Regions from separate parts of the Homo sapiens genome. Here all the other regions are linked to region 1. Evidence: fine-mapped expression QTL. A gene starts in region 1. Each other region holds a variant in brackets. All regions are shown on one strand. Distances are between the middles of the regions.

What was found. PIP is the estimated chance that this variant, and not a neighbour inherited with it, causes the effect.
Region 2: its variant is the best candidate, but not a certain one, in a credible set for the expression of VPS54 in whole blood (TOPMed, PIP 0.68).
Region 3: its variant is the best candidate, but not a certain one, in a credible set for the expression of VPS54 in blood mononuclear cells (TOPMed, PIP 0.88).

Annotation. Positions count from the first base shown.
Region 1 is chr2:64,018,334-64,020,833 of GRCh38, forward strand. VPS54 (VPS54 subunit of GARP complex) reads right to left here and starts at 1,095. Exons shown (of 23, transcript NM_016516.3): 1 at 605-1,095. RefSeq lists an enhancer at 279-348 and a silencer at 509-1,218.
Region 2 is chr2:63,985,931-63,988,781 of GRCh38, forward strand. The region is part of intron 1 of VPS54 (VPS54 subunit of GARP complex); the gene reads right to left. Among named protein-coding and RNA genes, the nearest start is that of VPS54, 32 kb to the right of the region's middle. The variant C/T (reference allele first, on the strand shown) is at 1,315.
Region 3 is chr2:63,975,585-63,978,435 of GRCh38, forward strand. The region is part of intron 3 of VPS54 (VPS54 subunit of GARP complex); the gene reads right to left. Among named protein-coding and RNA genes, the nearest start is that of VPS54, 42 kb to the right of the region's middle. The variant A/G (reference allele first, on the strand shown) is at 1,592.

The DNA.
Region 1 (2,500 bases):
TATAATTGGCAAGCCAAAGTTCCCAAGTCAACGACGGGAGAGCAGAAACGGCAGAGAGGGCCTGCCCTTTCTGTCTATGCAGAGATGGAAGGAGGCAGAACTGAAGAAAATTATTGCACAAATTATTTCAAGCTACATTGCCAAAATGCAAAATACTGAGTAACTCTTTGGGTTAGCCTTCCCCGGAGAGAAAAACAAACAAATGTTTTAACGATTCCAGTAGAATCCAATAGGACTAAGGGCCTGGCTGGAAAAAGAAAAGGAAAGTTTGGGGGCAGCGTCTAAGGGGGTGATGGAAGTTCCAGAGCTGGGATCCCGGAAAGATAAGAGAGGGGCAAGAGCGGCGTTTGCGGTCGCTGACAGGAGGCAGGGAACACAGCTGCCAGCCCCGATCCCGGAGGGAGAGTGAAAAGGAAAAAAAAAAAAAAAAAAGGAAGTGGCGGAGAGGAGCATGGAAGCTTCAGTGCCGGTCAGCTGTGACCGAAACTCGGTCCGTTTGGGGCTGGGGAGGAGAGCCGAGGGGGTGGGGTCTCGGTCCCTCTCTCCGCTGTAGGTCGGGGTGAGAGTGGGCTGAGACGCGCGGGGGGCCGCGGGGCACACCTACCTGCGGGTCCCGGGGCAGCCGCCCTGAGCGAGGCCTAGTGCATCGCCGCCGCCTCCAGCCCTCCACGTCGCACCGAGGCTGCTGCTCCACGGCCGCCGCCGCCCGGCGCCCGGCCGGGCCCGAGCCCGGGTTCCCGCCCCCGCCCCGCGCCCGCTGGCCAGTCGGCCCGGGGAGCACAGGGCCGCCCTCTCGAGCCCAGCTTCACTCAGGGGTGAGAGGTGGCAGCGGCGGCTCCCTCACGTCTCTCCCGGGTGTCCTGTCAGCCAGCAGTTTCCCCCGGGTCCGCAGCGCCGCCTCCGCCGCTGCTGCCACCGCCTCTCCCACATCCCCGGCCTCCAGGGGAGCCGCCGCCGCCGCGCCACGACCACTGCCTCTAGCGCTTCTGCTCCCGACTCCACTGCTTTCCCTCACCCCGCCGGCCCAGCCGGCTCGGCCCGGTCGGGTGCGGGGAGACAGCGCCGGAGGCCGCCGCAGCCCCCAGCCCACAATCCACCGCGCGGCTCCGCCGGGGCGGGAGGGCCGCGGCCCGGGCCGGGGGGAGCGCCCGCCGCCTGGGGAAAGCGGCCTTGGCGCAGGCCGGCGTGCCCGTCGCAGGCGCAGCCAGAGTTCTCTCGGGGCGGGGAATACACCGCGTGGCTCCCCTGCGCCTCCTCTAATAGTCCTACACGCAGACAAATCCACGCTGAATTCCACTTTCCCCACCACCCTTCCCCCCAACTCCCAGTTTTCAGGAACACCCAGAAAACCTCCTGCCGCCTTCCCCGGGACTGGGACGCGACCCCTCCAGCGTAGCCCTCGCCACCCCCAAGACCAACCGACTCGAAACATCCCTAAATCACCCGGGACCTATTAAAGCAAATACTTCCACGAGATTCCTCCTCTCCCCCACCCCCTCGAAGTAAATGCTTTTCAGCTGTTCCCTAGTAAATGCCCTTCCAAAGGTTAAAGGTCACCCCTCCGCAACAACCCAGTTCTCTCTATTGAGGCCTTTTCCCCATCCAGTCCTCCCCTCCAAGTCTTCCCCAAGTTCCAGGCCTTCCTCCCAGACACTGTAATCAGTTATTCCTGTTACTTGACTGAGATACTTGGAGTGTGTATGATAATTAATACCTTCTAATTCTGACTTCAGCCTGGTTTCACAGGACTTGCAACTTTAAACCAATAAAACACAGTCCACAAGAAAGGGAAGGTCTTAGTATATAAATATAAAGACACACACACACACACACACACACATATATTTTAGGAAGAAAAAGATCCTCAATCCTTTGAGTGCTTGTGACTTAATTTTGGGAAGATTTTATTCAATGTTGAAATTCTTGCCTAAAAATAAATTTCAAGCATTTATAAGACATAGTATGTTTTAACAAATCAAAAGTGAAAATGTAACTCTTATAGTTGGGGGGTTGAAAAAAATGTTGATCCAAGTTTCACTTCTAAGAAGTCACTTTGAAAACTGCAAACATAACTTTTATGAAATAATATTTTCCCCACCAAAGAGCTAAAGTTGGGGAAAGAGGACAAAAAGTAAGGAAGCATCAAAAATAGTTGAGAGAAAACTCTTACATTATATTTTTCTAAGTTCAATCCTCTAAAATTATGTAAGAAACAAAGTGAGAAAATCATTCCCCAATATGAAATAAATTTAACTGTAAAAGAGTGAAGTCCTCTTAAATCCCTGATCACTTATAAAACCAGATGAGTTTACATAGAAGCAGAGTAGAATGGTGGTTACCAAAGACTGGGGGGTAAAGGGTGATGAGGAAAGGGGAAATGTGAGTCAAAGGGTATAAAGTTTCAGGTAGGAGGAATAAATTTTAGTGATCTATTGCACAGCACGATGACCACAGTTAATAACAATGTATTTAATATTCCAGAATAGCTAAAAGAGTACTT
Region 2 (2,851 bases), 32 kb before region 1:
ATAATACACATACTTATCTAAAGGGTAAGAAACACTGTACAACACAGAAACACTGTACTAAGTGATAAAGACAATTCTACATTTAAGATTGACCATGTTAACTTTCTCATTAATCAAATAAAACAGCAAAAAACATTTTTGAAACTTTTTCAATTTTTGTGAGTACACAGTAGGTATTTATCCTTTGTGTTACTATCAAATTATACTTTTAGTTATTTTAAAATGTACAATAAAAATGACTTTTTACTCTAATCACCCTGTTAGGCAAGCAAATACTAGGTCTTATTCATTCTTTCTATTTTTCTGTACCTATTAACCACCACTACCTTCTCCTCCAGGCCCCCTTCCCCCACACTTATCCTTCCAGGCCTCTGGTAACCATCACTCGAGTTTCAATTATTTTCATTTTTAGCTCCCACAAATAAGGGAGAACATGTGAAGTTTCTCATTCTGTGCCTGGCTTACATAGTGACCTCCACTTCCATCCATCTGTTGCAAATGACAAGATCTCATCCTTTTCTATGGCTGAATAGTTCTCTATTGTGTATATGTACCACATTTTCTTTACTCATTCGTCTGTTGATGGACATTTCAGCTGTTCCAAATCGAGGCTATTGTGAATACTGCTGCAATAAATATGGATATCTCTTCAATATACTGATTTCATTTATTGTATATTCTTAGGAGTGGGAATGCTGGATCATACAGCTCCGTTTTCAGTTTTTCGAGGGACCTCCAAACTGCTCTCCACGGTGATTGTACTAATTTACATTACCACTAACCGTATGAGGGTTCCCTATTCTCCACATCTTCGCAAGCACTTCTTAATGCCTGTCTTTTGGATAAATGCCATTTTAACTGGGGTGAGATAGCTCATTGTACTTCTGATTTGCATTCCTCTGATGATAAATACACCCATGTGCCATTTGCATGTTTTCTCTTGAGTAATATCTATTCAGATATTTTGCCCATCTTTTAATCAACATATTGGATTTTTATCTATAAGGTTGTTTGAGCTCCCTATATATTCTTGTTATTAATCCCTTGTCAGATGGGTAGTTTGCAAATATTTTCCTCCCATTCTGTGGGATGTCTCCTCACTTTGTTGTTTCCTTTGCTGTGCAGAAGCTTTGTAACTTGATGTGATTCCATTTGTTCATTTTTGCTTTGGTTGCCTGTGCTTGTGGGGTATTTATTCAAGAAATCCTTGCTCACTTCAATGACCTGGACATTTTCCCCAAGGCTTTCTTTTCGTTGTTTCATAGTTTGAAGTCTTAGATTTAAGTCTTGCATCCATTTTATTTTTGTATATGG[C/T]GAAATAGGGTCCAGTTTCATTGTTCTATCCATGGATATCTAGTTTTCCCAGCACAATTTATTGAAGAGACTGTCCTTTTCCCCAAGATTGTCCTTTGTTAAGAATGAGATCACTGTAGATGAATGGATTTATTTCTGGGTTCTCTACTTGGTTCCACTGTTCTATGTGTCTGGTTATATGCCAATACGTTGTATAATTTGAAATCACATCATGCGGTTCTTCCAATTTTCTTTTTTTTGCATAGGATAGCTTTGTTTATTCCAAGTCTTTTGTGGTTCTATATAAATTTCAAGATTGTTTTTTCTATTTCTCTGAAGAATTTAATTGGTATTTTGATAGGGAATACACTGAATCTGTAGATTGCTTTGGTTAGTATGGACATTTTAACAATATTGATTCTTCCAATCCATGAACACAGAATATCTTTCCTTTGTGTGTGTGTTTGCCTTCAATTTCTTGAACCAACATTTTATAGCTTTCACTGTAGAGACTTTTCACTTTTTTGGTTAACTCCCAGGTATTTTATTTCTAGCTGTTGTAAATCTAGCTGTTGTTACTTTCTTGATTTCTTTTTCACATTGTTCAGTGTTGGCATATGTAAATGATACTGATTTTTGTATGCTGATTTTGTATCCTGCAACTTTACTGAATCTATCACTTCTAATCATTTTTTGATGAATTCTTTAGGTTTATCCAAACATAAGATCATATAATCTACAAACAAGGATAATTTGACTCCTTCCTTTCCAATTTGGATGCTTTCTTTCTTTCTCCTGTCTGACTGCTCCGGCTAGGACTTCCAATACTACGTTGAATAACTGTAGTGAAAGTGGGCATCCTTGCTGTGTTTCAGATCTTAGAAGAAGGGCTTTCAGTTTTTCCTCATTCAGTGTGATAACAGCTATGGGTCTGTCATACATGGCTTTTACTGTTTTGAGGAATGTTCCTTCTATACCCAGTTTTGAGGGTTTTTATTATGAAAGGATGTTTAATTTTATGACATGCTTTTTAAGAATCAATTGATATGTTTTTTCTCCTTCATTCTCTTGATATGATGTATCACCTTTGCACATGTTGAACTATCTACATTCCTGAAATAAATCCCACTTGGTCATGATGAATAATATTTTTAATTGTTGTTGAATTTGGTTTGCTAGTATTTTTATTGAAGATTTTTTGCATCAATAGTCACAGATATGTGTTGCGGGAAGTCAGGGACCCCGAACCGAGGGACTGGCTGAAGCCATGGCAGAAGAACATAAATTGTGAAAATTTCATGGACATTTGTTAGTTCTCCAAATTAATACTTTTATAATTTCTTACGCCTGTCTTTACTGCAATCTCTGAACATAAATCGTGAAGATTTCACGGACATTTATCACTTCCCCAATCAACAATCTTATGATTTCCTATGCCTGTCTTTATTTTAATCTCTTAATCCCATCATCTTCGTAAAATGAGGATGTATGTCACCTCGGGACCCTGTGATGATTGCGTTAACTGCACAGACTGTTCGTAAAGCATGTATGTTTGAAC
Region 3 (2,851 bases), 43 kb before region 1:
GCCCCACCCAGGAACTGACTCAGCACATGGAGATGGCTTCTCCCTATGATATCATCGCTGACCTGACCAATCAGCACTGCCGGCTCACTGGATTCCCCTTACCCACCAAGTTGTCCTTAAAAACTCTGATCCTCGAATGCTCGGGGAGACTGATTTGAGTAATAACAAAACTCTAGTCTCCCACACAGCCAGCTCTGTGTGGATTATTCATTCTCTATTGAAATTCCCCTGTCTCAATAAATCAGCTGCCTAGCCAGCAGCAGGCAAGGTGAACCCATTGGCAATTACATAGCTGGGATTACAGGCATGCGCCACCATGCCCAGCTAAATTTTGTGTTTTTAGTAGAGATGAGTTTCACCACGTTGGCCAGGCTGGTCTCAAGTCCTGGCCTCAAGCATCCTGCCGAAGTGCTGGGATTACAGGCGTGAGCCGACACGCCCGGTACATTCTTTATCAAGTTAAGGAAATTTCTTCCTGTTCCTAGTTTGCTAAGAGTTCTTTTTTTAAAAATAATGAATAGCCAACACGGGCAGACTGCTTGAATTGAGGAGTTTGAGACCAGCCTGGACAACATGGCAAAACCCCGTCACTACAAAATATGCAAAAATTAGCCAGGCGTGGTGTTGTGGTGGTGCTCGCCTGCAGTCCCAGCTACTTGGGGGTTGCTGAGATGGGAGGATTGCTCGAGCCGGGAGGTTGAGGCTGCAGTGAGCTGTGATCCTGCCACCGCACTCCAGCCTGGGCAACAGAGCGTGACCTTGTCTCAAAAAAAAAAAAAACAAAAAACAAAAAAACACACAAGAGGTCTAAAGTTTTCTTTCCTTATAATGCTTTTGTCTGATTTTAGTATTAGCTTCATGACAGCCTCACCAAATGCATTAGTAAGTATGTCCTTAGCTTCTATTTCCTGAAATAGATTATAAATAATTGGTATAATTTCCTACTGAAATGTTTGGTAGAATTCACCAAGGAACCCATCTGGGCCTGGTGATTTCTGCTTTGAGCAGTATGATTGATTCAATTTCTTTAATAAATATAGGCCTATTCAGAATATTTATTTCTTGTTGTGTAAGCTTTGGTAAATTGTGTCTTTCAAAATAAATTGGTCCATTTCACCTAGGCTATCAAATTTCTGGGCATAGAACTGTTCACAATATTCTCTTATTATCCTTTTAATGTCTGCAGGATCAGTAGAAACAGCCCCTCTTTCATTTTTGATACTAGTAGCTTATATCTTCTCTTTTTTTTTTTTTTTTTTTTTGAGACAGAGTCTTGCTCTGTCACCCAGGCTGGAGTGCAATGGCACGATCTCAGCTCACTGCAACCTCCGCCTCCCAGGTTCACGTGATTCTCTTGCCTCAGCCTCCCAAGTAGCTGGGATGACAGGTGCCTACCACCATACCCAGCTAATTTTTGTACTTTTAGTAGAGATGGGGTTTCATCATGTTGGCCAGGCTGGTCTCGAACTCCTGGCCTCAGGTGATCCACCTACCTCAGCCTCCCAAAGTGCTGGGATTACAGGCATGAGCCACCATGCCCAGCCTTCTCTTTTTTCTTAATCTAGCTAAATGTTTATCAGTTTTATTGATC[A/G]CAAAGAACCAGCTTTTGCTTTTGTTGATTTTCTCTACTGATTTGCTATTGTCAATTTCCCTGATTTCTGCTCTAATTTTTATTACTGCTTTTCTTCTGCTTAATTTGGATTAAATTTGCTCTTCTTTTGATAACTTCCTAAGGTAGAAGCTTGGATTATTAATTTTAAATTTTCTTCTTAAGCATTAAATGAAGCCTTCAGTGCTTATTTAAGCAAGACTTCCTTGAAGCCTTACTTCCCTTGCATCCCACACATTTTTATAAGTTTGTATCAGCATTTCTTTAAGCTCACTGATTTCTTCCCCTGCCACTTCAAGTCTATTAATGAACTCATCAAAAGCATTCTTCATTTCTGTTATACTATCTTTGATTTGTAGCATTTCCTTTTGATTCTTAGTTTCCATCTCTCTGCTTACATCTGTTCTTGCATGTTGTCCATGTTTTCCACTACAGCCCTTAGTATATTAAACATAGTTACTTTGAGTTCCCAGTTTGATCATTCCAACATCACAACCGCATCTGAGTCTGATTCTGATACTTGATCTGTCTGTTTAAACAGTGTTTTCTGTCTGGTATGCACTGTAATGTTTTGCTGAAAGCCAGATATGATATACCAAAGTTAAAAAGAACTGAGGTAAATAGGCCTTTAGTATGAAGTTTTGTTTATCTGGCTAAGAGTTAGGCTTTATTTACTGATTGCTATAGCTGCAGGTGTCAGAGGCTAAAATTTCCACTTGTGTCCTTGTTTTTCACCTCTCCTACTATCTTCAGGTTTCCCTGCAGACCTCTTAAATAAGGTCTGAGACATGTAGTCCTTTCCGTTGTATTCTCATTATTCAAGCACCCCACTGATGTGGTGGTAATGCGTGAAGGGAGGGGAAGCATTCTATGATCTTATGATTAGGTTTCAGTCTTAGTGAGCCTGTGCCCCTGGGCTGCGACCTTCACAGGTGCTTCTCAGTTGTTGATTTTCAGTTTGCTAAGGTTTTTTGTTGTGAGAACGGAAGTGACAACTTCCAAGCTCCTTACATGACAGATCAGAAGTATGTTTAGCTTTTTAAGAAACTGCCAAACTTTTTTCCAAAGGGGTTGTAGCACTTTAAATTCCCACCAGCGGTATATGAGAGTTCCAGTTACTCCATGAAGGCTGGCAGTAGGATGAAGCAAGCAAGAAGCATACGGTACAATATTTAAGGAGGTACCCACTCTCAGATTTCAGTGCCTCTCAAATTTTGCTCACCTGCCTCACCTTATCCTAGA